Linked DNA regions of Homo sapiens. The protein of the gene in region 1 purifies or fractionates together with the protein of each later gene. This does not show direct contact. Each region holds a gene or a part of one and is shown in the gene's direction. Other genes may lie near its edges.

Region 1 (8,129 bases):
TAGCAAATATTTTAGGCATTGCAGGCCATTTGGTCTCTGTCACAGCTGAACTCTGCCATTGTAGCATGAAAGCAGCCATAGACAATATATCTACATAAGCAAATGGGCATGGTTGTTTTTTGAAAATTATTATTTTTTCTTTTAATAGGTTTTTGGTGAACAAGTGGTATTTGGTTACATTAAGTCCTTTAGTGGTGATTTCTGAGATTTCGCTGTACCCATCACTCAAGCAGTGTACACTGTACCCAATGTGTAGTCTTTTTAAAAAAAATTTTTTTATTATACTTTAAGTTCTGGGATACATGTGCAGAATGTGCAGGTTTGTTACATAGGTATACACGTGCCTTGGTGGTTTGCTGAATCCATCAACCCGTCATCTACATTAGGTATTTCTCCTAATGCTATCCCTCCTCTAGGCCCCCACCTCCTGATAGGCCCCAGTGTGTGATGTTCCCCTCCTTGTGTCCATATGTTCTCATTGTTTAATGCCCACTTATGAATGAGAACATGCAGTGTTTGGTTTTCTGTTCCTGTGTTAGTTTGCTGAGAATGATGGTTTCCAGCTTCATCCATGTCCCTGCAAAGAACATCAACTTATCCTTTTTTATGGCTGCACAGTATTCCATGGTGTATATGTGCCACATTTTCTTTATCCAATCTATCATTCATGGGCATTTGGGTCAGCTCCAAGTCTTTGCTACTGTGAACAGTGCTGCAATAAACATACATGTGCATGTGTCATTATAGTAGAATGATTTATAATCCTTTGGGTATACACTCAGTAATGGAATTGCTGGGTCAAATGGTATTTCTGGTTCTAGATCCTTGAGGAATGGCCACACTGTCTTCCACAATTGAACTAATTTACACTCCCACCAACAATGTAAAAGCGTTCCTATTTCTCCACATCCTCTCCAGCATTCGTTGTTTCCTGACTTCTCAATGATCGCCATTTTAACTGGCGTGAGATGTATCTCACTGTGGTTTTGATTTGCATTTCTCTAATGACCAGTGATGATGAGCTTTTCTTCATGTTTGTTGATAGCATAAATGTTTTCTTTTGAGAAGTGTCTGTTCATATCATTTGCCCACTTTCTGATGGGGTTGTTTTTTTTCTTGTAAATTTGTTTAAGTTCTTTGTAGATGATGGATATTAGCCCTTTGTAAGATGGATAGATTGCAAAAATTTTCTCCCATTCTGTAGGCTGCCTGTTCACTCTGACGATAGTTTCTTTTGCTGTGCAGAAGCTCTTTAGTTTAATTAGATCCCGGCAAATGGGCACGGTTCTTTTAAATAAAAACTTATTGACAAATGTAAGAATTGGGCTTAATTTGGCCAGGGTTTTTATCATTTGTTGATGTGTCATGCATCATTTTATATATGAGATTATATCCATAGGATAAATTCCTAAGTAAGAGAATACATTCATTTCTAAATTTGATAGATTTGGCCAAATTACTTTTCACTGAAATTATATCAATTTCCATTCCCAACAGCAATATATGGAGTGCTGCTTCCTCAACACTTCAGCAGTTGAGCATGTTCACGGCAACTTTTGAGGGTTTTGCCAATTTTGTAGGAAAGGGTGCCTCAGTATATCTTTCATTTCAATTTCTCTTCTGAAGAGTGAAATTGAGCAAATGTAAGAACCATTTGTTTTCTGTTGGATAATTGGTATTTTATCCAATTGTAGGAGTTTTTATATAACAGGAAGATAAGCTCTTTCTCTGTGATGAGTTGAAAATAATTTTTCCAGTGTTATTTATCCTTTGACTTTATTTGTGGTGTTTTGTTATTTTAAATCAATGAAAGGGTTTTGTTTCTATATAGTTACATTAATGAATCTTGCTTTTTTTTTTTTTTTAGGGATTCTAGATTTTGTAAATAGTTGAAAGTTCTACCACATTCAGGCTATGAAAGAATTCTTTCATATTGTCTTAAAATTTCACGTATTTCAAACTTTCATTTGCTTGAAAATAAGCCAGATATGAAGCATGGATCCATTTTTTCCTTCCTACTGGTTACCAAATTGACTCCATGATATTTAGTAATTAGTCTACTTAATAGAAAGCGCATTTATTTCCTTTTTTGTTCTATAGACTACAATTTTGGTTCTGTCCACATGATGGCACCACAACCCCAAAAAAATCATGTTCTCAGTCGGAAAGAAGACAACATAAGATTTACACAGCGTTAATATTTTATTAAATGCCTCCATGTTGTGGCAGACAGACCTGAATTTCACATGGAATGTTCAACAGTTTATCAAATACTGAAGTCCATTTGGTAAAGATACATACCATAGTGTATGCTAATCAAAGAAGAAATTGACATTTAAAAAAAAATCATGACAATCTATTCTTCAGTTTTTTATCTTAGGCCACAAATGAATACACATACACATACACACATATGTATACATATACAGTTTATTATCAACCATAAAGACATGGTGTGTAAACTAGCTTTGATAAATTCTAGTAATATTTTCTAAACCTGCAAGCCTTCTACATCTTAGAGAGTAGGTTTGCACAAATCTGGGAAGCAAAGGTCACCCCTGGGCTTATGAATAAAGAGGATAATTACGTAATTCTGAATTTCCACCCCTAAGCCCCACCCCTTATTCCATCCCTGACAATCTTGGGGTTAAAGTCTATTGTCACTTATGAGAAACATGCCTGGACTTGCCCTGCACTCTTTAAAGAATCAAAAACGGAAGTGACAGCAAAGACTTTCCCTTTCTCCTCGCTAATGGCAAAGCCTTTCCCTTTCTCCTCTCTAATGGCAATAAGCCTCTTTTCCACATTATGCTGGAAGTATTTGAGACACAGTATTTTTGTAAATGTTCGATTAATGTTGATACCACACATACCTAAATTTGACAGTGGACTGCAGCAACTTTTTGTATGTACCTTCCAGGGATTCAATAATCTGGTATTCTAAATTTCTCTGGAATTTAGCTTCAAAAAACTATTTACCATATCCTGTTAACATAGGTAAAAAGATTCAAGTGTGCTGCTAATTAACCTAACCTCGATGATCTAGTAAAAATATACAATAATTACCTAAGTTCTCCAAGCCTCATCTATAAAATGGGAATAATAATGTAGGAGATGAGAATATGCCACCCCAAATATGGCCCTGGGATAAAGATTATTTTAAGATAATTATTTTGAGAACCAGCAGACCCAGGAAATGCTCTAAAAATGGCATATTACCCTTTCGTAAGGGAAACGTACATTCACTAAAAAAAAAAACAACAAAAACAAAAAACAAAAAAACCCCACAAAACTCCATTTGTAAAAGTGTCTCCTCTGTACCAGGAAGAATGACTCTAAATCATGAAAAACTTATCAATGAAGAAATAAGAAACCCCACTCCTGTTTACCGTACATTTCCTGGTCATGATTCCTTAACTTGCCTGCCCCACTCTTTTCTTTTGGTTTAGCTAAAGATAGTATTTAAGCCCGATTTTAAACCATCTCTAATTTTCCTGGTTATCTCCCATGTATATATGAGACGTATATGTTAATAAGCTTCTTTGTTTTCTTGTTAATCTGTCTGGTTACAGCGACCCAGGCCAAAACTTTGAAAGGTGGAAAATTATTTTTCCTTCCTTACAATATTTCTCTCAGAATTGTTGTAGGATGAAATAAGGCATTTAAAAATACTGCACAGTCCTCAATAAATGTTACTCTATCGTAATTAGAACAAGAAAAACAAACAAAAAAACGTGTTCCTAGATTAGTCAAACTGCACAGCAAAATCTGGAAATGGGAAACTAAGCTGTGTTTGCACTCACTGGCCTACGCTCCTCTCTTCATCCTACCAATCTCCCTACCCCAGAAAGTCTCAGATTGACTCTCCAGGAACCAGGGCAGCTCATGAGCCATCTCAACAGATGCATTCGGAAGAAGTCATAGATGACTCTGATTGGAAACTCACAATCGGCATCGATGTTTAGTACTAGTAACTGTCAAAGGCCCACGGTTGTCAACCGCTGCCCACTTCGACACCTAACGGCATTCCGGAACATTCCACAAGATGGCGCCCTTGCTTTCCAATCTTCGGGCTACGGGCGGAGGACGCCTTGCCAGGACGCCGACCTCGCTCTGCAAGGTTCAGGGGCCGACCTCAGACAGAGGCTCGCTCTAGGGGCATGGGCGGGGGCCAGACGGGCCTCGAGTGGGATCCTGGCACGGTTGGCCGATCGGCCCGGGATCCCGGCTGCGGGCCCGTGTCTGCCCTAGCGCGATGGGCTCGAATGCCCGGCTCCACGAATCCCGGCCTTTCACCCCCACGGCCTCTCGGCACTGCCCCAGCTAGACACCAGCGAGCTCGTCACAGCGCGGGCAGGCACTGCGGGGCAGCTGCAGACGAGCCCTGTCATACGGCCGGAGGAGGCCTCGCCTGCCCGTGCGGCGGGCTCCGGGCACCCTGATACCTTGACACAGGAGGCCCCGGGCGGCCGGGAAGGGCTGTGCGGGGGAGGGACTGCGTCTACACCCGCGCCCGACTCGCTCGGGTCACGGCACTGCCCTGCCACCAGGCGGCTGGGGCGGGGGTGAGGCCAGGCGTCGGCCCTCGCGATTCTGTTTTGTACGCTGAGGCTCGGAGCCTTCGAAGAACGGGACAGCGGGGCCCACGGACGGCTCTGAAGGCCTTCCCGCGGCCGCAAGAGATCTCGGCGGCCGGCGTTTGAGGCGCGCGGCTCCGCTGGGAAGCGAGACCCGGGTGGCGGGACAAGACTTGCTTCCCGGCCACGCGCGCTCGGCCGGCCGTGGGGCGGGGCATAGGCCGTGACGTGATGTCGCGTATCGAGTCTCCGCCCCCTTCCCGCCTCCCCGTATATAAGACTTCGCCGAGCGCTCTCACTCGCACAAGTGGACCGGGGTGTTGGGTGCTAGTCGGCACCAGAGGCAAGGGTGCGAGGACCACGGCCGGCTCGGACGTGTGACCGCGCCTAGGGGGTGGCAGCGGGCAGTGCGGGGCGGCAAGGCGACCATGGAGCTTTTGCGGACTATCACCTACCAGCCAGCCGCCAGCACCAAAATGTGCGAGCAGGCGCTGGGCAAGGGTTGCGGAGCGGACTCGAAGAAGAAGCGGCCGCCGCAGCCCCCCGAGGAATCGCAGCCACCTCAGTCCCAGGCGCAAGTGCCCCCGGCGGCCCCTCACCACCATCACCACCATTCGCACTCGGGGCCGGAGATCTCGCGGATTATCGTCGACCCCACGACTGGGAAGCGCTACTGCCGGGGCAAAGTGCTGGGAAAGGTGACAAGCGGAGGGCGCCGGGCTGCCGGGCGGGCGGGAGGTCTGTCCGGGCGACCCCAAGCCGGGCAAGCCCGCGGGGTCCCTCGCCCGCCGCTTCCGGGTTTTTCGGGGGTCCGATCCCAGCGCGAGGTGGGCTCCTCACCTGCCCTCTGGCTTTTGTGCGCCGGCAGCGCTGGGGATCGGCTTTGCATTCTTAGCCTCAGAACTGTGTGTCTCCCGCAGCCCAGAGAAATGCATCTTGAGTCTGGAAGCGAGGGCTTTCTACATCAGACCTCTCTCCCTCTATCTGCTCCCAGGGAATTTTCCTGACAAGTCTCATCAGAGATTATTTTTCATGTCTCCCCGTTCCAACTCCCTCCATAAAGCTCCCCTTTATAAAAGAAGAAGAGAAACTGTTTGAACTTGCTGTTTCCAGCAATGCATTTCTCTTCATGAGGGAGCTTTAACGAAGTCGAATGCCTCCCTCTGTCCACCCTCCTCCATTCCTCAATTTTTTTTTTTTTGCTTTTCTTTCTTCCCATTTATTTATTTATTTAAAATATCTGCCGTCCATTTTTGTGCCATCCTCAATTCCGTCTCGGCTTTGTTTCCTTTCAGGGTGGCTTTGCAAAATGTTACGAGATGACAGATTTGACAAATAACAAAGTCTACGCCGCAAAAATTATTCCTCACAGCAGAGTAGCTAAACCTCATCAAAGGGAAAAGGTGCGTATGACTCTTGAGTAAAGTATTTTCTTTGTGTGCAAGGATGGCCCTTCCCTGTTAGGAAAATGTCTTCTGCATGTGTAATCACTGGCTTTTCCGAGGTGACTGGAAGCTAATAAGCCTTACCTTGCTTTTTCATTTAGATTGACAAAGAAATAGAGCTTCACAGAATTCTTCATCATAAGCATGTAGTGCAGTTTTACCACTACTTCGAGGACAAAGAAAACATTTACATTCTCTTGGAATACTGCAGTAGAAGGGTAAGTGTCAACTCCTATTTGAGAACATTTGCTTACCCCGAATTAACATGGTATTCAAAGAGTATTTTATCTGGGATTTTAGCTGTGGCAGCACTTACACTGCAAAGTTAACTTTCATTGCTCATCCTGCAAAGGGAAACCAGTGATTTTGATAACTGTTTTGACAGATTCTCTTTTTTCCTTCTCCTCTTCTTAGTCAATGGCTCATATTTTGAAAGCAAGAAAGGTGTTGACAGAGCCAGAAGTTCGATACTACCTCAGGCAGATTGTGTCTGGACTGAAATACCTTCATGAACAAGAAATCTTGCACAGAGATCTCAAACTAGGTAAGTCATTGACGCCAAAAGCTGAGTTTTGTGTTAGAGTTCTTTTTTCTCTCTCTGTTTTTTTTTACATATTAATGTTCTTAATTGGGATCTCGTGTCTGCAATCTTGCTTTTGAATGGGCGACTTTCATATAACAATTGGCTGCCTGGCTCCAAAGTGGATGTGTGTGTACTTGGTTAGAACGCATTTTCAAAGGGATTCACATTTTGTTTTGTTTATCGTCTAGGGAACTTTTTTATTAATGAAGCCATGGAACTAAAAGTTGGGGACTTCGGTCTGGCAGCCAGGCTAGAACCCTTGGAACACAGAAGGAGGTAAGAGTCAGAAAGATGCATCCTAGTAGACTTTTGTGGAGACCAAATATGCCTTCATTATTTTGCATTTAATGTTTCAGAGGTCCGGTAATAAAATCTATAAATCATAGCAATGTTAATTTAAAGAAATACTTATTAAATGCCCACTATGGACTAGACAGAGCACCCTGTGCCTCTAAATTGATTATGAAAGCAGTCAATGAAGTCTTTTCTTGGCTTAAAATGTATAAAATGCCACGACGTCCCTGGCTTTAGTTGGTTAACAACACTTTGCATGTGGGCTAAAACAACGTGTGTGCATTTTTAAAAATTACCAAAACTCATTTGGTCAGATCTCAATTGAATTTTCAGATGCCAAAAGTCAAATGTTTCCAAATAGAAATTCAGTATAGATTTTAAGATTTTGTTTAAGATTTTGTCTCCCATCAAGTCATGTCAAGAGAACCAAGTTTAAGTAGTGGAATAGTTCCTAACACGATCTCAATATTTTGTCTTTCCAGAACGATATGTGGTACCCCAAATTATCTCTCTCCTGAAGTCCTCAACAAACAAGGACATGGCTGTGAATCAGACATTTGGGCCCTGGGCTGTGTAATGTAAGTAAATGCAGCAGAATAATTAAAAAGCAAATTCGGATTTAGATTTTAACACTTGAAAAGAGTTGCTTTATGACCATTGCTAAAGATGTGTTTCTTTGCACACAGGTATACAATGTTACTAGGGAGGCCCCCATTTGAAACTACAAATCTCAAAGAAACTTATAGGTGCATAAGGGAAGCAAGGTATACAATGCCGTCCTCATTGCTGGCTCCTGCCAAGCACTTAATTGCTAGTATGTTGTCCAAAAACCCAGAGGATCGTCCCAGTTTGGATGACATCATTCGACATGACTTTTTTTTGCAGGTTGGTGCACTATCTTTTTTTTTTAATTACCTGGTATTGATCCCAGTTACCTGACAGGTTACTGAAGGCTTTTTCTAATATTCCACAGGGCTTCACTCCGGACAGACTGTCTTCTAGCTGTTGTCATACAGTTCCAGATTTCCACTTATCAAGCCCAGCTAAGAATTTCTTTAAGAAAGCAGCTGCTGCTCTTTTTGGTGGCAAAAAAGACAAAGCAAGATATATTGACACACATAGTAAGTTAACAAGACTTCTTTTCCTTTTTCGTACCCAATATTATATTTAAATTTGGTAAATTAGTTAAAAGAGAATTTTATATTAGCATAACTTGGCCATATTTGCGTA
Region 2 (7,536 bases), on another chromosome or scaffold:
CCATAATTATTTTATTTAAATATTTTATATATTTATTTATAAATATTATTATTTCCTTCTAGGCTTGTGAGTTCCTTGAGGGATAAGATGCTGTGTTGTTCATTTTATGTCTCCTTTGCCCTGTATTTTACTTTATTTTATTTTATATCGTTTTATTTCATTTTATTTTTAGAGACAGAGTCTCACTCTGTCACCCAGGCTGGAGTGCAATGGCACCATTATAGCTCACTGTAACCTCGAACAAGGTAACCTGTAACCCGGGCTCAAGTGATTCTCCCACCTCAGCCTCCCAAGTAGCTAGAACTACAGGCACATACCACCACGCCTGACTAATTTTTTTTCTTTTTTTGTAGAGACAGGGGTCTTACTCTGTTGCTCAGGCTGGTCTCAAACTCCTGGCCTCAAGTGATCCTCCCACCTCAGCCTCTCAAAGGGTTGTGATTACAAGTGTGAGTCACTGCACCTGGCCTCCTTCACCCTGTAATTGTCACAGACTAGATAAATGCATGAATAAATGTGTGAAGATGAATGAATGAATGGATTGATTTTGGTAGTATGTGAAATGCAGTTGGTTATACTTAAGTGAATAGAGAGGGAGAAGTATGATGGGGAAGGGATCTAAACATTAATTCATTGGTATGAAAATGAAACTCTTATCCCAAAGCTGATAGCTGAAATGCTGTCACCTAACACCTCGATTGTAGCTAGTACAGAGCGCCAGCTAGCCGGCAGACTTTATGTGAATCAGGAAAAAGTGTCCCTTCAGGGAAAACGAGTTAGTAAAAGACACACCTTCCTTTTATGTTATAGCCTGACCGAGTTATGTCTTGTGCACCTGCTCAACCATCCTTGAGGGCACTGAGCCGGTGGGGAGCAGAACTTGGTTCTTTCCCAGGCCCACTGATGATTTCTGTGTGGTTCATCTCACCCCCAGGCCTCTGGGCCCTGGTGAACAATGCTGGTGTGGGCCTGCCCAGTGGTCCCAACGAATGGCTGACCAAGGATGACTTTGTGAAGGTGATTAATGTGAACCTGGTGGGACTGATCGAAGTGACCCTTCACATGCTGCCCATGGTCAAGAGAGCCCGGGGCAGGGTTGTCAACATGTCCAGCTCTGGTGGTCGTGTGGCTGTCATTGGTGGTGGCTACTGCGTCTCCAAGTTTGGCGTTGAGGCCTTCTCTGACAGCATAAGGTAACTGGGCCCTGGTACTGAACAATTCTGGGTGAAAATCCCAGAGATTAGAGAGGGTTGGGAGTGACAGCATGTGGGCAGGGGAATTCCGCAGACAGGAAGCTAACACAATAGCAGAAGGAAGGTTAGACCTCAAGGTGCTTTCTCCAAGGACCAAGAGCAGGGATGAGGAGAAGAGGTAGGGTGGAAATACAAGGCATCAGGTGGGCCTTCCCTTGAGCGGCACCAGGGTGAGTGAAACCCTGTTTGGGCCTGTGAGAGGAGGGAGAGTCCCCCAAACAGACAGACAGGCCTGGAGGCACAGGTCCCCTCTGGGAGGTCCTTAGAGGAGCGTGCAGGCCTTGTGTATATCCACACCATTCACCGTGTGGGTGTTGAGTGAGGGGTTGCTAATGGGAGGGACCTGGTGGGAGGCAAGGCTTTGGCCTAGATTCTCTATTGACTTCTTCCCGCTGGTTGTGCCTAATGCAAATTGCCCAGAGACTGTTGGGCCAGTTTTGGAAAGGGCTGAGTCCCTAAGGAAGGGCTTATTTGCACAAAGGCAATGCCAGGGCCAAGTACAGGGGTGAGAGAAGCATCTCTAGGTTCCTGAAAGACCAGCCCATCCAGAGGTGACTCTCCGTGATGATTGTCATCTTGGGGCCCAGACTGACTGCAACTCTTCTTTCCCAGGCGTGAGCTCTACTACTTTGGGGTGAAAGTCTGCATCATTGAGCCAGGGAACTATCGGACAGCCATTCTCGGCAAGGAGAACCTGGAGTCACGCATGCGAAAGCTTTGGGAGAGGCTGCCTCAGGAGACCCGGGACAGCTACGGAGAGGATTATTTCCGCATCTGTAAGTTCCTGGGGCAGGAGAGGGGTCTCTGAGGGGGGCGAGTGGGTCTTGGGGTCATTAGCTGGCTTTCCGTTTACAGATGGTGAGACAAAATGCAGAGGAGTTCAGGACCCAAGGTCACATAGTGGCACAGCTGGGGTTTGAGAATAGAGAGCAAGTGGCAGAATCATCACTTCTGGAGCAGCCCGGGGAGTTAAGGGCAATTCAGCCCACTCCTGGCACCTGCCCCCACAGCATCATGATGCAGGGGAATCAGGTGAAAATGCACTGAGATAAATACAGCAAAGAGATCAAGGGCATGGCTGCTGGAGCCGGACTGCCTGGGTTCAAATCCTGGCTCTACTACTTACCAGCTAGGAGACTTTGGACCTATTACCTAGTTTTCCCATGCCTCAGTTTTCTTATTTACAAAATGGAGCTAAAGATAGTGCCTCCCTCATGGGGTTGTTATGAGGGTTAGTATGTGTGAAGTACTTTGCACATTCTGAGTGCTTGTTAATAAAGAAGAAAATGAGCACATGGGGATTTAAAAGGGAGGGTCTCTAGGCAACTCTCTTTCTTTCCCTGAGCTGAGGGTCTCCTGTGAATCATAGGTGTTTTTGGAGGGTAGAGGTGGGACACGGCAGCTGTTTACCCTGCTGCCCCAAAACTTTCTGCCACGAAAGTTGTCTGCTGGATGTCGTACGTCAACAGAGCACAAAGCCAAGTCAGCCATTTTTTTCACTTAATACATACACACTTTATTGCATTTTTGTTTTTTGTTTTTGTTTTGAATCAGTAATACAAAGCATGCAAGGCTGCCATGTCCCAAGCCTGTGTGGGGCTGGAGAGCTGGAGCGGACACAGCAGTATGCCTGCCCTTCACTGCCTGTAGCTTATGGCCCAGTAGGGGAGACAAACATAAATCAAAACACATGTGTTTATGGTAGATGTGGATAAGTGCTACAGAGGAGAAACAGGGTTGTGAAAGAAGAATGGAGCAGGAAGTTGCGGTCCCAATTCAGACTATGGTGAAGGGGAGAGCTTCTGAGTTGACTTTGAGGAGGAATAAGAGTTAGGTGTTGCTGGGAAGGGGAAAGAGGGGATGCGTAGGGACTTTTTTTCTGCAGGAAGGCTCTGAGGCAGAAAACTCCATTTGAGGAACTTTAAAGAAACCAGCAGGTGGGAAGCAATGGGAGGTAGCTGGGGTATACGGAATAAATTAGAGCATCAAAGCACACTGAGGATTAAGGGGTGAGGGAGAGGAAGCTATCAAGGGTGAGTGTTAGCTTTACAGCTTGAAGAACATGGTGAATGGAGGTGTCTTCATTCATTGATTTAGGGAAGTCTCAGGGAAAAATGTTTGGAGTACTCCTTAGATAAATTCATCTTTTAGTGCTAGACATGTTAGGATTCTGTGAGAAGAAAATGTCTAAGGATTTACACTAGTTGGGACTTACTCAGTGACAGAAGATCCAATGCAAATTATTTAAGCAGAAAAGGAATTTCTTGCCTCACCTGACTAAAAAGTTGAGCAAGATAAGCTTCAGGTACAACCTGACCCAGACTGCAAATGATGTTGCTAGGACCTGGTTCCACCCATTTCTTGGCTCTGCTTCTTTTGCACTGACTCCAGTCTCTAAGCTCTCTCCCCTGTGGGAGCCACATTGCTGCAGCCTCTCTTCACCTCCACCTAGGGTGAGGTCTGCTGGGAAAATAGGAGAGTTATTTCCAGTACCTCTCCCAAAAGTCCTAATGTACACTCCGACTTGGAGGACCTTATGGTGACCGCGTCATGGGGGACCACAAGATGCACCCAACCCTAAACCAATCACTGCGCCCAGGGGAATGTGAAGGTGTGATTGGCTCAGGCTGGGCTGTGTGCTCTGCCCAGACCAATGGACACAGTGTGGGGGAGGCATAGGTCCCCAGAGGGAAATCTGCAGCTGTTGGGAACAAGGAGAGAAGATGTTAGCATGTGTGGGGAAGAATATTTATCCTCTGTGTGATCATTCTTAGCAAAGAGTAGTTCAAATTATTTGTGGAGCTGCTTGGAGGCTGGGGTGAAATGGGTTCAGCCAGTGTCTGGAAACCTCACAAAGTCATTTTCTAAGTAAGCACTCAGGGTGAAGAGAGCTTGTAGCATCTTTAGTGTGGTCCATGAAAGAATATGTATAAAGGCAAACTCCTCCGAAAACCTTGTCCAAAAGCTAGTATTGTACTAAAGAATAGTAAGGATTGGGTTTATAAAATATCTTAGGCCAATTCACCTGTAGTCCACACCATAATTTCAGAGGAAAATTTTCAGGCAGTGGTCAACTACATTTAGATAAACGTTTTCCCAAGTGGTTATACTAGAATTTTTGCTTCAGTTGCCCAGTGTTTATTGGGATTCAGAGATGAGACACTCTCCAGGAAACTAGCAGGGAAGATGTGAAAGCAAATACACCACCACATGAAGAATCTTGCTATAATGGACATGCATACAAAACAAAGCAGCAATGCAGACTTCATTCTGCTGTCACAGAAGCCTTACAGAGGTGACAGTTAATGCCTTAGTGAGTTTTGAAGGATGAATAGGAGTACACCAAAAGGGAAAGAGATGGCGGATGTTTCACACAAGAGGAAGGGTGTGAGCAACGTTTTAGTGACCTGACATAGCATTGTATGCTTTTGGAGGCAGTGCAGATTCAGGCTTGTATTCCAGCAGTCCCTCTAATCATGTTGTATAGCTCTCCAAACTTGTTTATCCATTTATAAAGTACAATTCCTCTCTCATGGATTGTTAGGAGAATTAAACAGAAATGCAAAGTACTCAGCTCTGCTACAGTAAGAGCTGAACAAACCTTTGCCATTGCCATTATAGTCTGGCAGGAGTGCTGTGGGTGATGATTGAGGAGGGGAGAGATTAGGAGTCAGATCATGAAATGCTTTGATTGCTATAGTAGGGAGCATGGCTCTTATCCTAAAGGCATTAGAGAGCCTTGTAAATGGCTCTGAAATGAAGGATCAGATTTGTGTCACCGTGGGAAGGATAAAAAGTCCACCTGGGGGACTACTGCAGAAACCCAGTGAAGGAACGATAAAGACATGAAGTTGTAAGTCCTGATGGTTCTGGTGGTGGGGGGTGGCTATGTGACAGACAGAAGAGATATTTAGGAGTAGTCCTAGAGCATCGCTGGGTACAAACTCAGCCAGTTGCTGTGACTGACCAAACAGGCCCCTGGCTTGTAACCCCTAGGACCAGGCCTGATACTTTATAGATTTTGTCCTGCTTAATTCTCCCAATAACAAAAACATTTTCCCAGGTGCCCAGCTCCAAAGCCTATGTCCTTCCTCACTGTGAAGGAGAGTGACAAAGCTGGATGGGTCCTTCCGTCTCCCATCCTACTCCATGCCTAGCAGGGTGCCCAGCACTGAATGGCAGCTAATATCTATTTGAGAAAACAATGAAAGCAAGTGCCTCATACCATTCCCCATGTCTGGGGTAACTTCTCCCACCCCACTGCCTGTGCAAGCCCTCCCCACCTCTCAGAACCCAGTCCCCAGCCCATCTCACCATGTCAGCTTGCTCCACATCCTCAGCCCACAAAGCTTTCCCTGGCGCCGAGGGGGCAGAGAGAGCCTCCTGGGCATCCTGAACGATTCCTTCGACCCTCAGCCCTGCTGCTGGTGGCCTCTGTGCCAGCTCTACGGTCAGAGGTCAGGGTGTGGCTTCCTAAGACATTACTGCTTTATGGACAGTCTGGCTTTGAGTTAGTGTGGCTCTTGTTGAGATCCCAAAATATAGTTTGGCTTTTCCCCTGCATCAGTTTTCTTTCCAGGAAACAGAAAATGGAGTTTCTCGGAGTCTGGGGTGAAGGGGACTGAAGTGATGCTGCCCCATTCTCACCAACCACCCACAAGGGTCCTGGCCCCAAGCGGGTGAATTCCTTGCCTGCCTGGACCATTCTCAAAGTCAGGGCAGCTTTGGCTTCCTCTCCATTTTCAAGTTTTCATACCTTATCAGGGCAGTCTGACTTTGAAGCATCATTTTCCCTGGAGTCCTCAGGGCTCTCAATGAAGCATGAATCCCCCTGTCCTGGGGTGAGGATGCAGATGAGGGCCTGGTGGGTGTGTGGTGTGGCCCTTCTCCCATTTATGTCATGAACTTTGGCAGACTTGTACTATTTGGGTGCTCTGTCCCCATCTCCACCCCTGTGGGTCAATGCAAACAGAACAACTCCTCACATTTGTGAGGGCCCCACGAGGTGCTTGTCTATGCCTTAGATTATTTGAGTGACAGTGGCCTTATGACTGAGGTAGGGGCAGTATTACTATTTTTAAATAATATTTTCTCCTGCATGTTTTTGTTTAAATGTGGGAACTCTAGGAAGTACATAGAAGAAAAAAAAAAGGGCTGTTTTCCCATCATGTTTGCTCTTCTGTACTCCCCCAGTGTCTACCCTGCTGTTAATCATCTTTGTTATTCTCCAGGACAGATATTTTTTGAGATGGAGTCTCACTCTGTTGCCCAGGCTGGAATGCAGTGGCGCGATCTTGGGTCACTGCAACCTCCCACTCCTGAGTTCAAGTGATTGTCATGCCTCAGCCTCCTGAGTAGCTGCGATTATAGGCACGCGCCACCACGCTCACCTAATTTTTGTATTTTTAGTAGAGACAAGGTGTCACCATGTTGGCCAGGCTGGTCTCAAACTCCTGACCTCAGGTGATTGGCCTGGCTTGGCATCCCAAAGTACTGGGATTACAGGCCTGAGCCACTATGCCCAAACTTTAGGAAAGATAGTATTATCTCCATTTTATAGACAATAAAAGTTTAAGCTCAAAGTCATATAACTAATAAGCGGCACAGTTATAAGGAGAATGTGCACAGTTCTTCTCATCACCAGTCTAATGCAATAGTAGGACTTCAATGCACAATTGTTGAATTCAGAAAGATAAATAAGACTATTTGTTTATTTATTTATTTATTTATTTATTTTGAGACAGCGTGTCATTCTGTTTCCCAGGCTGGAGTGCAGTGGTGTGACCTCGGCTTACTGAAACCTCAGCCTCCTGGGTTCAAGTGGTTCCCATACCTCAGCCTCCCGAGTAGCTGGGATTACAGGCATGTGCCACCAAGCCCAGCTGATTTTTATATTTTTAGTAGAGATGGGGTTTCACCATGTTGGCCAGGCTAAGATTATTTATAATAGTCTTATAAATGTGTGTTTGTATAAGGGACCACCTGGAGGGTGTGGCGGACCTGCCTGAAATGTTAGATCAGGGATCTGATGGAAAGGGAACTTGGATGGAATTCGGAAGAAGCCATCTTTTATGAAGAATAACAGAGCCTTTTTCCCCTCTCTGCCCTCAAACAGATACTGACAAGTTAAAAAACATAATGCAGGTGGCAGAGCCCAGAGTCAGAGATGTCATCAACAGCATGGAGCATGCTATTGTTTCCCGGAGCCCTCGCATCCGCTACAACCCTGGCCTGGATGCCAAACTCCTCTACATCCCTCTGGCTAAGTTGCCCACCCCTGTGA
Region 3 (7,513 bases), on another chromosome or scaffold:
AATTTTTTGTATTTTTAGTAGAGACGGGGTTTCACCGTGTTAGCCAGGATGGTCTCGATCTTCTGACCTTGTGATCCGCCCACCTTGGCCTCCCAAAGTTCTGGGATTACAGGCGTGAGCCGCCGTGCCTGGCCACACCTAACTTTTTCTTGATTTTTTTTTCAGTATTTCTAGGCTACGTGGTTCATCTGACTTTTTTCGAATTGTTGCAAATCTCCAAAAATTTTTTCAATATATTCATTGAAAGAAATCAGCATATTAAGTGGACCTGTATAGTTCATACCCATGTAGTTCAAGGTCAACTGTAATATCTAGTGTAGGTGTGCAGTAGGCGGTAGCATCTAGGTTTGTGGAGGTACAGTCTGTGATGCTCACACATTGGTAACGGCGCCTAATGATGCATTTCCAGAATGGTCCCCTCCATGAAGTGATTCCTGACTGTATTTGTGTCTTTGGGTCTGAATTGAGTCTCTTTTTTTTTTTTTTTAACATAAATAGAGATGGGGTCTTACTATGTTGCCTAGGCTAGTCTCAAACTCCTGGGCTCAAGCTATCCTCCCACCTCAGTCTCCCAAAGTGCTGGGATTACAGGCATGAGCCACCACTCCCGGCCAGTACTTGGATTCTTTCTTGTCACAGAAAGTTCAGGAGGCTGGGTGTGGTGGCTCACGCCTGTAATCCCAGCACTTTGGGAGGCCAAGGTGGGCAGATCGCCTGAGGTCAGGAGTTCAAGACCAGCCTGACTAATATGGTGAAACTCCGTCTCTACTAAAAATACAAAAATTAGCTGGATGTGGTGCCACGTGCCTGTAGTCCCAGCTACTTGGGAGGCTGAGGCAGGAGAATTGCTTGATCCTGGGAGGCGGAGGTTGCAGTGAGCCAAGATCGCACCACTGCACTCCAGCCTGAGCGACAGAGCAAGACTCCATCTCGGGAAAAATGAAAGAAAGTTCAAGAGACAGACAACGATAAGCACAATAATTACCACAGTTTTACACAATCACCTTTTCACCTCTCCCTTCTTAGCAGCAATTTCGGGGAGGGCCAGCCTATGGCCTGGTCTCTCATTTTCTTACCAAACCTACAAGGGTTGGGGGGTGGTCTCTTGTCATTGCATTCTGCAGATGATAATCAGTGACTGACACCCACTATCTCATGTCATATGGTGCCCCACTATGCAGCTATGCAGCCTGCACTGTGGAGCAGAAACATCACCCCCTCACTCCACCTTCACTGGCGCTCAACACACAGGTGCATGGAGGAGTCCGACGTGCCCTGTTGTGTGGCGCCATCACCTGTGTTTGCAAGATGAGGACAGGACCCCAAAAGGGAAGGCGACAGCCTTCCCAGGTCGGGTGGCCAGCCTCTTGGACCTGCTCGTCCAATTCAGGGATGATTGCTTTCTCGGTGCCTCCCTGGCCCCAAGGGCCTCAGAGATTCTAGGTCAAGGAGAAAAGCTACTGAATGAAGATTCTTATGCTTACCAGGGCTGTAGCCAGCAACTGCAGCCAGGGTGGAGGGTACCTAGGATTGGTTTGTCACTCAAGTGCCGAACCCTAGTGCTTAGATCCGGGTGCTTCAATGCGCACACACCCCAGCTCTGAGACACCCAGCAGGTGAAGAAGTCGCCCTGTGGCTTAGTTGGACAGAACAGGCTCCAAAGTCTGAGGCCCAGGTTCAAGTCCCACTGATCCATGTCCTCAGGGAGCATGGCAGCCCTCACCCGCCCGCTCATGTGGTGGAGTGGGCCTGGGGGAAAGGGACTGTGGGCATGCTCTAAGGCAATCAACCAGATGCTCAGACTTCGGCTCCTGCGTCTCCCCAACAGGGCTCCCCCACATCCCTCAGTGCCCTGTAAACCAAGGAAGGACTAAGAGTGCAAATGTGGGCCATTCTTAGCGGCAAAGCCCGAGTGTTGATGAGCTGGAAGGACCCAAATCTTTTCCCTTCCCAGAGGGCCCGCTGCACCCCTTTGCTCACCTTCTCCCCCGGGAAGCACCGCACCGCCCGAGGGGTGGTGGTTTCTGCCACCCGGATGGGGCTGTTGCAGCATCTTTCTATGTGTCAGTGTTACTGGAGCCTGCCAAGTTCCACAGCTGATGCCAAATTAAATGTCAGCTGCTCTGAGGATGGTTGGCTGCCTCCCCTGAAGGAGCTAAGGGAGTCGCACAGCTGAGTCTTACGCCAGACTCTGAATCTGTGCGCGCTTACACCTGGTGTCTGTTAGCAACGGAGCTGCCTTCTGAGAGCCCGTTTGTGCGTGCGCCCATGCATGCTGCCCACATGCCGTCTCAGCTCTCTTGTCTCTGGCTCTGCAAATTCCTGCCCTGTCACTCGTTAGCTGTGTGACCCTGAGTGAGTCCCGGAACCTCTGATTCTTGGTGTCCACATCTGCAATGTGGTGGTGCGTAGAGCCTGGCTGGAGAGGTCACAAGGACGTAAGATGCGGGGGTGCACGTGGCAGCACACAGCGGGACCCCGAGGCCGTCACGTACCACGTGGCACTGACAGTAATGATATGAGGTCCCCGTGTGCCTGGAGTGTCATGAAGGTGTGAGACTCACAGCACACCCCAGCGCAGGAGCGAGATCGGGGTGCACCTGTCAGGCTCTGACTACCCTGTGTCTTTGGTTTCCAGTTCAGGACCTCAAGGGGCTCGGCTATGAGAAGGGGAAGCCTGTGGGTCTAGTGGGCGTCACAGAGCTTTCAGACGCCCAGAAGAAGCAGCTGAAGGAGCAGCAGGAGGTAAGACTGCGGGGACAAGGGGACGGGGACATGGTCGGCGCCCATAGAGTGTTGTCCTCTACCCCCGGGTGCAGCGGTCACAGGGGTTCATGTGCTTCGCCAAGCTCCTGTGTTCAGGTGGAACCCATGGCCAGCGGGGAGGCTTCCAGGCAGGCAGGTCCCCCTGCCCCAGTAGGTGGCATGCCACCCCCCACTGCACCTGAGTGGCCTCTCAGCCTGCCTGGGAGACCACTGGCCCTTGGGGCGGCCCCGGTGGTCTGTGATCCTGGCCTGAGCTTTGTGGCTGCTTCTCGCCGCGCTCCAGGGCTGGTTCCCATGGGAGAGTCTACGTTGATGTTCTTTGTCCGCAGTCCTCTGTCGTGTCTAGTGCAGGACCATCCTGGTCAGCACAGGGCACCCTGAGGGACTTGAGGCCTCCCAGTTGTAGTTGGGCAGTGTCGGTGTTGGCTCCCCTGAGGAGCTGCAGGCGCTTGCCTGTCAGTCCCTGGGGTCAGCTCGCTGTGACCCCTCCTCCAGGCCCGCAGCCCCGTCACATCACCCTTGACCCTCCCAGGGGTCAGGACCCTGAGTCACCCTCATTCAGTGGCCAAGAGGTCCTCCGTGCTCCACACTGGGATTTAGAGAACCCAGGGCAGTACTCAGTACTTGCTAGAGTCCTTGCTCCAGTCCTGCCCAGGGGTCCAGATGAGCCACGTTCCGGCGGGGGATGCCCAGCACTGGAGGCGGGGAGCAGGAGCGGGGCTCCGGCAGGCCACAGCACCGTGCCCTGGCTCACTGGCGAGTGTGCCCTGCAGATGCAGCAGATGTACGACATGATCATGCAGCACAAGCGGGCCATGCAGGACATGCAGCTGCTGTGGGAGAAGGCAGTCCAACAGCACCAGCACGGCTATGACAGTGATGAGGAGGTGGACAGCGAGCTGGGCACCTGGGAGCACCAGCTGCGGCGCATGGAGATGGATAAGACCAGGGGTATGTGGGGCAGCGGGGTGGGCCGGGCTGGGCTGGGCATGGCCCCCCTCACCTGCCCTGGAAGGTTACCTGGATGCGCCACACGTGGTCTTGAGCTGCCATCCTGGTTTAGCCCCCAGCCTGCTTCCTGTGGCTGTGAGGCCTGGAGTGAGAGGCTCAGTCTCTCTGGGGCCTAGTTTTCTCCGTGGTGAAAAGGAGCAGTCCTGACATCGTGAGGGTGGAGAGCTGCACAGGGTTCACTAAATGCTGGGCTGCCTCACCAGGCAGAGGCTCGGGCTGGGGTCATGGCCTAGCCGCCTCCTTCCCTGGGGGCCCCAGGCTCCCACTGAGCCTCATACCTGTGCCCTGGGAGCCACCAGGCCTGCTCCCCTCCTTCCTGCTTCTCCCTCTTCTCACCTTTCTGCTTCTCTGAGCAGAATGGGCCGAGCAGCTGACAAAGATGGGCCGGGGCAAGCACTTCATCGGAGACTTCCTGCCTCCAGACGAGCTGGAAAAGTTTATGGAGACCTTCAAGGCCCTGAAGGTGAGCCAGGAGGGGCCCTAGCTCCAGCCTCTGCCACATGCCAGCCCCTCCTGTAGCTGCCTCACCCTGCAGGTGCCCAAAGTAGCCTGGCTACCCTCTCGATCACAGCAGGAGCCAGGCCTTTTCGCTGCAGGAGGCATCTGTTAATGACAGGCGCCGTCTGTGTAGGGAATTAGCAAACAGCAGCTCAGCTGCTGCCTCAGAAACATTTCCTGGGGCTGCGGGGGAAATTTTGCTTCCAGTGGAGCCAATTAAGTGCAGTTTACAGGCAAAGTGTTTCTCCGGCAGAAGTCCCCACGGACTGGCCTCTCCAGAACCAGAGTTTAACATTCTGCCTCTGCTGCTGTTGGGCTCCTGAGGAGAGAGGGCTGACATGGCACGTCCCCCATTATCTTTTTGAGGTTTTTTTATAAAACTGTTCAGGGCCTGATAACCTCATTAGTGAGGTGGTAACCTCGTTGTCCATCTCTTATTAGTACCTTGTACAACAAATTGCTCTCAGGACATGAACACGGGGCTTCTCTTTGCCAGTGAACCATTGCTTTATCTCAGGTGGATAAGGCCTGTGTAACTCATCCTCTTGCCCTTTTGACTTGGCCACCAGGGGTGCACAGTTTGGCACTAAGGCCCCGGGGACCCTGAGAAGCAGGAGGAGCTTGGTCTGTTTGTTCTCAAGGAGTCTGATCTGGTGAGAGGGAGGCAGATGGGCCACTGGTCCCAGCACTGATTGAAACCAAAGGCAGAAGGTTGGATTTGGGGGCCACCACAGCCCCAGCCCTGGTGGGTGACAGCTACCTCCTCACCTTGCAGGAGGGCCGTGAGCCTGACTACTCAGAGTACAAGGAGTTCAAGCTGACTGTGGAGAACATCGGCTACCAGATGCTGATGAAGATGGGCTGGAAGGAGGGCGAGGGGCTGGGCTCAGAGGGCCAGGGCATCAAGAACCCAGTGAACAAGTGAGTGTGGCCTTGTGGGAGGGCATGGCCATGAACTTGGGGTCTGTGGGTCCCCTGCCGCCTCCCCATTCCCACCCCTTTATGTCATCGCTTTTCCCTTGTGGCAAAATGATCACAGCACCCCACTGCACACCCCTTGTCAGGCACAGGCCTGCAGTGCAGGAGGCCATACGGGCTGGGTCCTCCCCAGTCCCAGGGCCTCCTTCCGTCCCCTCATGAGTATCTCCAGGCCAGATGGGGTGGGTGAGGGTACAGATGGGTCAGGCCTTGTCTGCCTTGTGAAGGGCCTTATTTGAATTCCCCATGAGTGCGAAACCACTCCCAGAGATGGGCAGGAGCTCTCCCAGGTGTGACCCTGGCCCCGAGTGCCCCCTTCAAGGCTGTCCTTGAGTAACCATCCTGCCATCCCAAGAGCTGCGACAACTTGCACTGTGGGCTCCTCCTTCCTGTGTGGGACCCTGGGGCCTAGGCCCCCCCCCCCCGCCCGCCCCGGGGGTCTCCCCTCCTTGACCATTCAGGTTCAAGCTTCTCTCTGTGCAGATATGTCCCAGCCCAGCCCTGCACCCGCGGGAGGTGCTGTTGAGAGCCCAGCTGTGCCCGGCCCCCCGGCCAGAGTTCTGGCCCCAGGTCCCTGCTCACATCCTCTTCTCCCTGTAGGGGCACCACCACAGTGGACGGCGCTGGCTTCGGCATTGACCGGCCGGCGGAGCTCTCCAAGGAGGACGACGAGTATGAGGCGTTCCGCAAGAGGATGATGCTGGCCTACCGCTTCCGGCCCAACCCCCTGGTACGCATGTCCTCCTGGGCTGCCTTTGCTCAGTCGACAGGAGAGGGTGGTGGTAGGAACAGAAGGCTCCCTTCCTTCCTCAGTCCAGCCAGGCTGGGTCTCACCAGCGAGCCCCCTACCACCCACCTGCATTCAAGCCCCCACCCGTCCCCCAAGCCTGCCCTGCCACCTCAAGGGTGCGGGCTCAGCTGCCTCCGGAAGGTTCCAGACAGGAGGAACTGCTGTCTTTAGTGCTAATCCCCTCCTCCTGTTATCTGTTTTGCCTTCCACAGAACAATCCCAGACGGCCTTACTACTGAGTGTTCTGGAAATACATACTTTCTGAATGACCAACCGTCCCTGGACTGTGGAATGTTCCGGCCTGCATTTCTGCCCACCCCTTCCGTTGTCACGAGTGCCGTGCCGTGTAATAAAGTCCCAGTGCTCATCCACCACAGATGCCTGGTCCTGTTGCAGGAAGCCCCTCCTGTTAGCAGCGGGATGCAAGATGCTGTCTCGGGGCTCTCCTTATTGGCCTGTGGAGTCTCCATCCCCGCTCAGCCTGGGTTGCACTGGAGGGGAGGAAGAAAGTTGTTTTCAGCATAGTAAAGCTGGAAGGCCAGGTGCAGTGTCTCACCCCTGTCATCCCAGCACTTTGAGAGGCCAAGGCGGGCGGATCACTGGAGGTCAGGAGTTTAAGACCAGCCTGGCCAACATGGTGAAATCCTGTCTCTACTAAAAATATAAAATTAGCTGGGCATGGTGGTGCACACCTGTCGTCTCAGCTACTCGGGAGGCAGAGGCAGGAGAATGGCTTGAACCTGGGAAGCGGTTGCAGTGAGCCAAGATTGCGCCTTTGCACTCCAGCCTGGGCAAGAGAGCAAGACTCTGTCTCAAATAATAATAATAATAATAAAGCTGGAGACTTGGCCACACCTGGGCTAAAGGAATGTCAGGAACCTCCGAGCCTAGCACTGTGCTGCAGAGGGAGGTTGGGGAGGGGTCTCCAGGCAGGGCCCCACCTTCCCTCAGACCTGTGGGGGCAGGTGGCTTCTGGGCACACCCATGTGCTCTCCTGGCAGGTGGTGCTGGCACGGCCCAGCACACAGGTGTTGGCTGTGGCCCTTCAGGTCCCACCAGTGTGGTAGGCACACGAGTCCCTGGGGCTTGTGTCGTTAGGGGACAGCCGCATGGATGCATGGATGTGCCATGCCAACATGTCAGGCAGCTCCTAGAAGGAAGGGCCTCAGAGCCGGAGGTTTTGAGGCAGGAGGGTAGCCCAGGCCACAGTGTGTGCCAAGACCCCCACATCTGCCCCAGGGCCAGAGCCCCACATTTGTGCCTAAGTCACCCTGGGGATCTTGTTAAGCTGCAGCTGCCGAGTCAGCTGGTTGGGCAGGGCCCTGGGAATTTGCATTTCCATCTGCCCCCACCCCCTCCACACACACCCAGTGGGTGCTGCCCAGCCCCTGCAGGCACCAGGGGCTCCCTATTCACATGCTTGGCATGGAGTCGGGCTCCTGGGCCAGCTTGTGTTCACACAGCCATTCA
Region 4 (7,536 bases), on another chromosome or scaffold:
AACAATGTTGTAAATTTACCTACATATTTATCTTTTCTGGTGCTATGTATTACTTTGATCAAATTCAAATTTCTATCTTGTATCATTTTCCCTTTGCCTTAAAAACTTCTTTTAACATTTTTTATCATGCTTCTCTGGTGAAGACTTCTTTTGGCCTTTTAAGTCTAAAAACAGTCTTTATCAATTCTTCATTATTCAAAAGTATTTTTGTTGTGTATAGACGAGTAAGCTGGTCATTTTTAAAAATTTTTTATTATACTTTAACTTCTAGGGTACATGTGCACAATGTGCAGGATTGTTACATATGTATACATGTGCCATGTTGGTGTGCTGCACCCATTAACTCATCATTTGTATTAGGTATATCTCCTAATGCTATCCCTTCCCCCTCCCCCCACCCCACGACAGGCCCCAGTGTGTGATCTTCCCCAACCTGTGTCCAAGTGTTCTCATTGTTCAATTCCCACCTATGAGTGAGAACATGTGGTGTTTGGTTTTCTGTCCTTGCGGTAGTTTGCTCAGAATTATGGTTTCCAGCTTCATCCATGTCCCTACAAAGGACGTGAACTCATCCTTTTTTATGGCTGCATAGTATTCCATGGTGTATATGTGCCACATTTTCTTAATCCAGTCTATCATTGATGGACATTTGGGTTGGTTCCAAGTCTTTGCTGTTGTGAATAGTGCCACAATAAACATACGTGTGCATACGTCTTTATAGCAGCATGATTTATAATCCGTTGGGTATATACCCAGTAATGGGATGGCTGGGTCAAATGGTATTTCTAGTTCTAGATCCTTGAGGGATCGCCACACTGTCTTCCACAATGGCTGAACTAGTTTACAGTCCTGCCAACGGTGTAAAAGTATTCCTATTTCTCCACATCCTCTCCAGCACCTGTTGTTTCCTGACTTTTTAATGATCGCCATTCTAAGTGGCCTGAGATCACTGTGGTTTTAATTTGCATTTCTCTGATGGCCAGTGATGGTGAGCATTTTTTTCATGTGTCTGTTGGCTGCATAAATGTCTTCTTTTGAGAAGTGTCTGTTCATATCCTTTGCCCACTTTTTGATGGGGATGTTTGATTTTTTCTTGTAAATTTGTTTGAGTTCTTTGTAGATTCTGTATATTAGCCCTTTGTCAGATGGGTAGATTGTAAAAATTTTCTCCCATTCTGTAGGTTGCCTGTTCACTCTGATAGTAGTTTCTTTTGCTGTGCAGAAGCTCTTGAGTTTAATTAGATCCCATCTGTCAATTTTGGCTTTTGTTGCCATTGCTTTTGGTGTTTTAGTCATGAAGTCTTTGCCCACGCCTATGTCCTGAATGGTATTGCCTAGGTTTTCTTCTAGGGTTTTTATGGTTTTAGGTCTAACATTTAAGTCTTTAATCCATCTTGAATTAATTTTTGTATAAGGTGTAAGGAAGGGATCCAGTTTCAGCTTTCTACATATGGCTAGCCAGTTTTCCCAGCACCATTTATTAAAAAGGGAATCCTTTCCCCATTTATTGTTTTTGTCAGATTTGTCAAAGATCAGGTGATTGTAGATGTGTGGTATTATTTCTGAGGGCTCTGTTCTGTTCCATTGGTCTATATTTCTGTTTTGGTACCAGTACCATGCTGTTTTGGTTACTGTAGCATTGTAGTATAGTTTGAAGTCAGGTAGCGTGATGCCTCCGGCTTTTTTCTTTTGGCTTAGGTTTTTCTTGGTAATGTGGGCTCTTTTTTGGTTCCATATGAACTTTAAAGTAATTTTTTCCAATTCTGTGAAAAAAGTCATTGGTAGCTTGATGGGGATGGCATTGAATCTATAAATTACCTTGGGCAGTATGGCCATTTTCACGATATTGATTCTTCCTACCCATGAGCATGGACTGTTCTTCCATTTGTTTGTGTTCTCTTTTATTTCCTTGAGCAGTTGTTTGTAGTTCTTGAAGAGGTCCTTCACATCTCTTGTAAGTTGGATTCCTAGGTATTTTATTCTCTTTGAAGCAATTGTGAATGGGAGTTCACTCGTGATTTGGCTCTCTGTTTGTCTGTTATTGGTGTATAGGAATGCTTGTGATTTTTGCACATTGATTTTGTATCCTGAGACTTTGCTGAAGTTGCTTATCAGCTTAAGGAGATTTTTTACATTTTTTTTAAAAAAGTACTTTAACAATATTGCTCTTCTGTCTTCTGACTTTCATTGTGACTGAGAAGTTTTTTGTTAATCTTATGATTTTTGTTCTTTGAATAATGTCCTTTCTTCTCTGAGGCTGTTTTTAAGATTCTCTTTCACTGGTTTTCAAGAATTTGATAATGATGTGCCTCTCTGTAGTTTTCTTCATGTTTCTTTTTTTCACGTTCACTGAGCTTCTTGGATACGTGTGTTTATAGCTTTACATCATGCTTGGAAATAATTTGGTCATTATGTCAATTATTTTTTTCCACCACCAATCCTGCAGGACTTTAATTATATATATATGAGGACATTTGATATTTTCCACAGTTATTTCATGCTGCATTCATTTTTTTCCGTTTTCTTTTATGTTTTATTTTAAATTATTTATTTTGATGTATTAAAATTTATCGGTCTTTTTGTAATGCAGTGCCTAATCTGCTGTTAACTCCACCTAATTTTTTTAATGTTTAGTAGTCCAATGTGGATCTTTTTTATATTATCTATTTCTCTCCTGTGTTCATGCTTTCCTCTAACTTCTTGAATATACCTTGTATATTTTATATGTTTCTAATAGATGCACATTTACCTACTAATTTTTTTATCAGTGTTGTCTCTTGGTCTGTTTCTACTAATTTATATTTCTCTTCATTATTAGTCGTATCGTCCATTGCATGACTATTCATTTTTCGTTGAATGCCATGAATTGTGATTTTATATTGTTGAGTTTTAGATTTTCGCTAGGGTATTACTTAAAATATTTGGAGTTTTGTTCTGAGATGAAATTATTTGGAAACAATTTAATACATCCAAGCCTTGCTTTTAAACTCTTTGAGAATAACCTGTACTTTGAGGCTAATTTTATCCCACTACTAAGGCAATATTCTGCAGTATCTATCTGATGGCCTCTATATCAGGAGAGCTTTTCACTCTGGTTTTGTTAGTGGAACACAAAACATTACCATCCCTATGAGAGCTCCCAAAATTGCCAGCCTGCTCCTTTCTAGTCATTATTTCCTAAGTCTTGGTAGCTTCTTCACATACAGGCACACTGATCAGTTTTCACCCAAAGGCTTTTGGGAAAACCTCTACAGCTGTCCTGACCTCTCTCTATCTATGTAGCTCTCTTCTGTCTGATACTCTGCCCCACAAACTCTGGGTGCCTTTGCCTATATTTACTCTAAACTTTATCACCTTATCTTGGTGAGACTGCTGGGATCTGTTTAGCTTCCTTTTACTTATCCCGTGACCAAGAAAATCTCTCCAGGCAGTGAGCTAGGCACTTGTAGGGCCCATATCATTTGCTTCCCTTTTCTGGGGTCACTGTCCTGTGCTGCCAGTCGTCCATCATGGCCAGAAACAGAAGTCCCTCTATTTTATTTTCTTGAAAATAATGGTTGTACATCTCTGTCCATTGAAATAGGGTTTTTTTATTTTTTTGTTTTTTCAGTAACAGTTAAAAAGTCATTCAGAGCCGAATTGGCTTAATTAGGGCAATCAAACTAGGAGTGACTAAAAAGGAATGAAAGTTATTTTCTCATGCAGCCTGTAAACTAACTCTTTTCTTGCCAACAGGTACAGGACACAATATCCAATCCTAGGCCTCCTATATGATGACTACGAATATATACCACCAGGTAGTGAAACACAGACTATTGTGATTGAGAAAACAGAAGACAAATACACTTGTGTAAGTTCACTTGGGCATTTTTAGCCCTATTTTGACGATATATGTACAGCCTTTTAAAATTGAGGTAAAATATCAAATGAACTAAAAACTTTGAGTATTTTTTTCTTTTGAGATTTTCTGTTTCCATTATTGATATACAGTGGGAATTAACAAATTTTGGAAAGATTCATACATGTGGCAATATAATTGATTATTTAAGCTATAATATAAATATAATTTTTGCCCCTCAAAAGGAAGAAGATTAACATTAGTGATATGCTAATTTTATTTATTTTCTTGCCTAGCTCGGTAGTTATTGAATGGGTTCCATTAAAATTTTCCAAAACAGTTTCCCTTTTTCTAAAGCAGGTAGCAAATATCATAGACAATTATGAAGGCAACTGGAAAATGGAGAAGAGGCATGTTTCAATAGAATTTGTCTTGCAATCTTGCATGTGGTACTTATTCCTGTGGATTTTATATATATATATATTATATATATTAGGATTTAGAAAGAAGAGATGTTTCTAGCTTCCTCACTAGACTGTAACATCCTCCAGCCTTAAATCCCACAGTTATAGTGAGGTTGCTGAAGAGTACTTTAAACATCATATACTCCAATATTTACTCTACCTTCTACAACATCCTCCAAAATGGCCAGGTGACATGGACCTTAGCATCTTTCTAAGTGGTCCAATCCATTGCTAAGGGGACTGATTATTGAAACCTTCTTATAAAGGACTGAGAGCTACTTCCCTAAAACTTTTACATATTGCTCTATTAACTTTTAAAGTAATGATCATCAAATAGGGGATATATAGTTGTCCCTCAATATCCATGAGAGATTGGTTCCAGGATCCCCTACAGATATCAAAATCTGTAGATGCTCAAGTCCCTTATCGGCATAATATTTGCATATAACCTATGCACATCTTACTGTATACTTTAAGTCATTTCTAGCTTACAATAACTAATTCAATGTAAATTCTAAGTACGTGTCATACCGTCTTGTTTAGGAGGTAATAACAGTAAAAAAAAAAAAAAGTCTGTACATGTTCAGTACAGAAATGATTTTTTTCCTGAATATTTTCAACCCATCATTGGTGGGGAACCCATGAATACCAAGGGCCAACTATATATTCCCTAGCACAGTTGCTCTCTACAGCAACAATTTTGTACCTTACGGGACATTTAGCAATGTCTAGAGACATTTTTGGTTTTCACAACCAGAGGGGTGGGTGTTATTGGCATCTAGTGGTTAGAGAACTAGGATGCTTCTGAACATACTACGATGTGCAGGACAGTCTCCCATAACAAAGAATTATCCAGCCCCTAATAAGTAGTGTTGAGGTTGAAAAACTCTGCTAACAGAATGCTCTTGGGTTTTTTTCCTAATTATATACTCCTACACTGGTGCAAGAGATTCTAATAGTAAGCCACTGGTAGGGATCATAGGAATGTGTGATATCCTTCTGGTGAAATGAACAGAGAAATGTTTGAGGATTCTAGTTCTCAAATCATACAGATCTGACTTAAAACATTGTGAAAATGACAGCCTTTGACTTCTTATGATAAAATTATCTACCTGTCAAACTACTGAGGTATAAAAGTAGGCAAAACTAAATCTATGGCTATTAAATGAAGAAATGGTTATCCTTGTGGGATGGATACTGATTAAAAGGAAGCATAAGGAGAGATTCAAGGTCTTAATAATGTTCTGTTTCTTTATCTGGGAGATGGTTACATATGCATGTTCGGTTTGGGAAAATTCATTTATTTGAATACTTATAATATGTCCATTTCTTTCTACATGTTTATTGTACTTCAGTAAAAGCCTTAAAATGCTTAAGTGTACCGTGGTGAGCAATAGACAAATATACAAATATCAATCCAGTATTCTGCAGAACCTTTTGAAAAATATTTAAAAATTATGCTTCAGATGTATAGTTAATAAAATTAAACATCTAAACATCTGTTAAATAACTTCTAGAAACATCTTTTGGTTGAACAAGCTCAAATATTTGAGTCAACAAAAAAATTCAAAAAGTTTCTTTAGAGCTGAAGCCCTTCTTTAACTACAATCCAGCCATCAATCTTTTAAGTATGGTTGTTATCATCAATGAAAACAACCAATGTTTAGTAATCCCAAAGTAAAAATAACTGCATTTAAACTCTGAAATGTTGTTTTTGTTAGGTCATTAGTTAGCTGAAAATTACTTACTACTAATTATTAACCCATAGAATTTAAAATTGGCCACTCAAAGATAATTTGATGCCCAAAGTTAAGACTGAGAAGCAATTGCTGCCACTAACCCTAACCACATGTATCCCAGAGGTGGCAATATGAAGACCTGCCAAATAAAGTTTCTACAGAATAGTAGCCACTACTTCTCTCTCCATTAAAAATGTGCAGCAGTAAAAATCAAAATTGATATTTGAAGAATCTATAGATACTGATAGCAAGGTCAGAATATATTTAAATGCATTCACAGATGAAAATCCATATTTATTAAGAGACAATTGGACATATTTAAACTCTAAATATTACTAAGAAGGAAATCTACTTAATTGTCCTTCACTCTTGCTTAAAGTCATTTGAAACATACCATGAGTAAAGTAAGAAAGACAAATCATTGTTTCATTGAATATATATATATAAAAGAGTGCCACAAAAGTGCAATACATGTCCTTTGGTTTTATACATACCAATTTAAATAATTTTCCATAACTTTGCATATAGTAACAATGACTTTAATTATGAACCAGTTGTAAGATAACCTTTTTTTTTCTTTTCTAGCCATGAATGGATCCACTTTAAAGTATTACAACTCAAAGCCGTTTTTTTTTTGTGTGTGTGTCTCTGCATTAGTACTTTGTTATTTTTCCATCACTAAAGGCCAATCAGAATTTGGAACCATGCTGCTACCCAAGAAATCTAATGGAATGAATTAGTTCTGTAGATGACAATTTCTTCACCCATTTATGAGACCTAAATCTTTTCCATAACACTCATGTATTCAGTATAACAACATACTAACTGAAAGAGGGACCTGATTGTTTAAAGTTTGATTGCAGACACTGTAGAACATAACTCATTATGTTTCAGATAAGGTAACTCCTAGATATCAAACTAATTTGTTGGGGTAGAGATTTTACAAGTCATGCCATTAGAAGATTTTCTCTGATATTATATGTGCAGTTCAGTTACAAGATGAAATCATGTTTTTTTAACAAAAGAGATAAAATACAATTGAAGCAAAAAATAACAGCTAGTATATAATATATACAGTCTGTATTTGCTTTTCACAGTAGGCCTGATGACTAAAAGATATGCTTTATTACACGCTATTTTCACCTCTTGAAAGTCAAAGGTGATGATTAATTTCATTTAGCAGGGAAGTGGAATAATATCTTTTGAAATAACTAAGTCCACTAAATTATACAGTATGCTATTCTGGTTCTAAGTACATATTAGTCCCTTGGCAAATCTGTTCTTTCAAAGCATACCTTCCCCAAATGAGCCTACCTACTTCTTAAAAAACATATAACACAATGTGGTAGTAGTAGGTGTAAGGAAGGTAAGTTTTTTCATAGTGGTATGCAAACATATCATTGAAATATTACATAGATATAAAGACTTAGGGAATAAAAATAGCAGCAACAAATACTTGATAGATTTATCCTACTTGGGAGAAATATTTTGTAGC

The links.
Region 2: the proteins of PLK2 (region 1) and SDR9C7 purify together in Homo sapiens (affinity purification with mass spectrometry; 3 studies listed by BioGRID and IntAct, with this or other methods). This does not show direct contact.
Region 3: the proteins of PLK2 (region 1) and SUGP1 purify together in Homo sapiens (affinity purification with mass spectrometry; 3 studies listed by BioGRID and IntAct, with this or other methods). This does not show direct contact.
Region 4: the proteins of PLK2 (region 1) and POF1B purify together in Homo sapiens (affinity purification with mass spectrometry; 3 studies listed by BioGRID and IntAct, with this or other methods). This does not show direct contact.

What each region holds. Positions count from the first base shown.
Region 1 is NC_000005.10:58,456,836-58,464,964, reverse strand, and holds the start of PLK2 (serine/threonine-protein kinase PLK2), read left to right. Parts: upstream 1-4,878; 5' UTR 4,879-5,005; coding exon 5,006-5,275; intron 5,276-5,872; coding exon 5,873-5,980; intron 5,981-6,123; coding exon 6,124-6,240; intron 6,241-6,436; coding exon 6,437-6,566; intron 6,567-6,793; coding exon 6,794-6,881; intron 6,882-7,381; coding exon 7,382-7,477; intron 7,478-7,585; coding exon 7,586-7,784; intron 7,785-7,872; coding exon 7,873-8,020; intron 8,021-8,129.
Region 2 is NC_000012.12:56,923,883-56,931,418, reverse strand, and holds part of SDR9C7 (short-chain dehydrogenase/reductase family 9C member 7), read left to right. Parts: intron 1-934; coding exon 935-1,193; intron 1,194-1,865; coding exon 1,866-2,029; intron 2,030-7,368; coding exon 7,369-7,536. UniProt on the Homo sapiens protein: Plays a crucial role in the formation of the epidermal permeability barrier.
Region 3 is NC_000019.10:19,275,417-19,282,929, reverse strand, and holds the end of SUGP1 (SURP and G-patch domain-containing protein 1), read left to right. Parts: intron 1-2,638; coding exon 2,639-2,745; intron 2,746-3,539; coding exon 3,540-3,717; intron 3,718-4,133; coding exon 4,134-4,240; intron 4,241-5,050; coding exon 5,051-5,196; intron 5,197-5,853; coding exon 5,854-5,983; intron 5,984-6,255; coding exon 6,256-6,282; 3' UTR 6,283-6,897; downstream 6,898-7,513.
Region 4 is NC_000023.11:85,278,517-85,286,052, reverse strand, and holds part of POF1B (protein POF1B), read left to right. Parts: intron 1-3,735; coding exon 3,736-3,850; coding exon of another isoform or gene 3,851-3,874; exon of another isoform or gene 3,875-3,938; intron 3,939-6,626; coding exon 6,627-6,632; 3' UTR 6,633-7,536. UniProt on the Homo sapiens protein: Plays a key role in the organization of epithelial monolayers by regulating the actin cytoskeleton. May be involved in ovary development.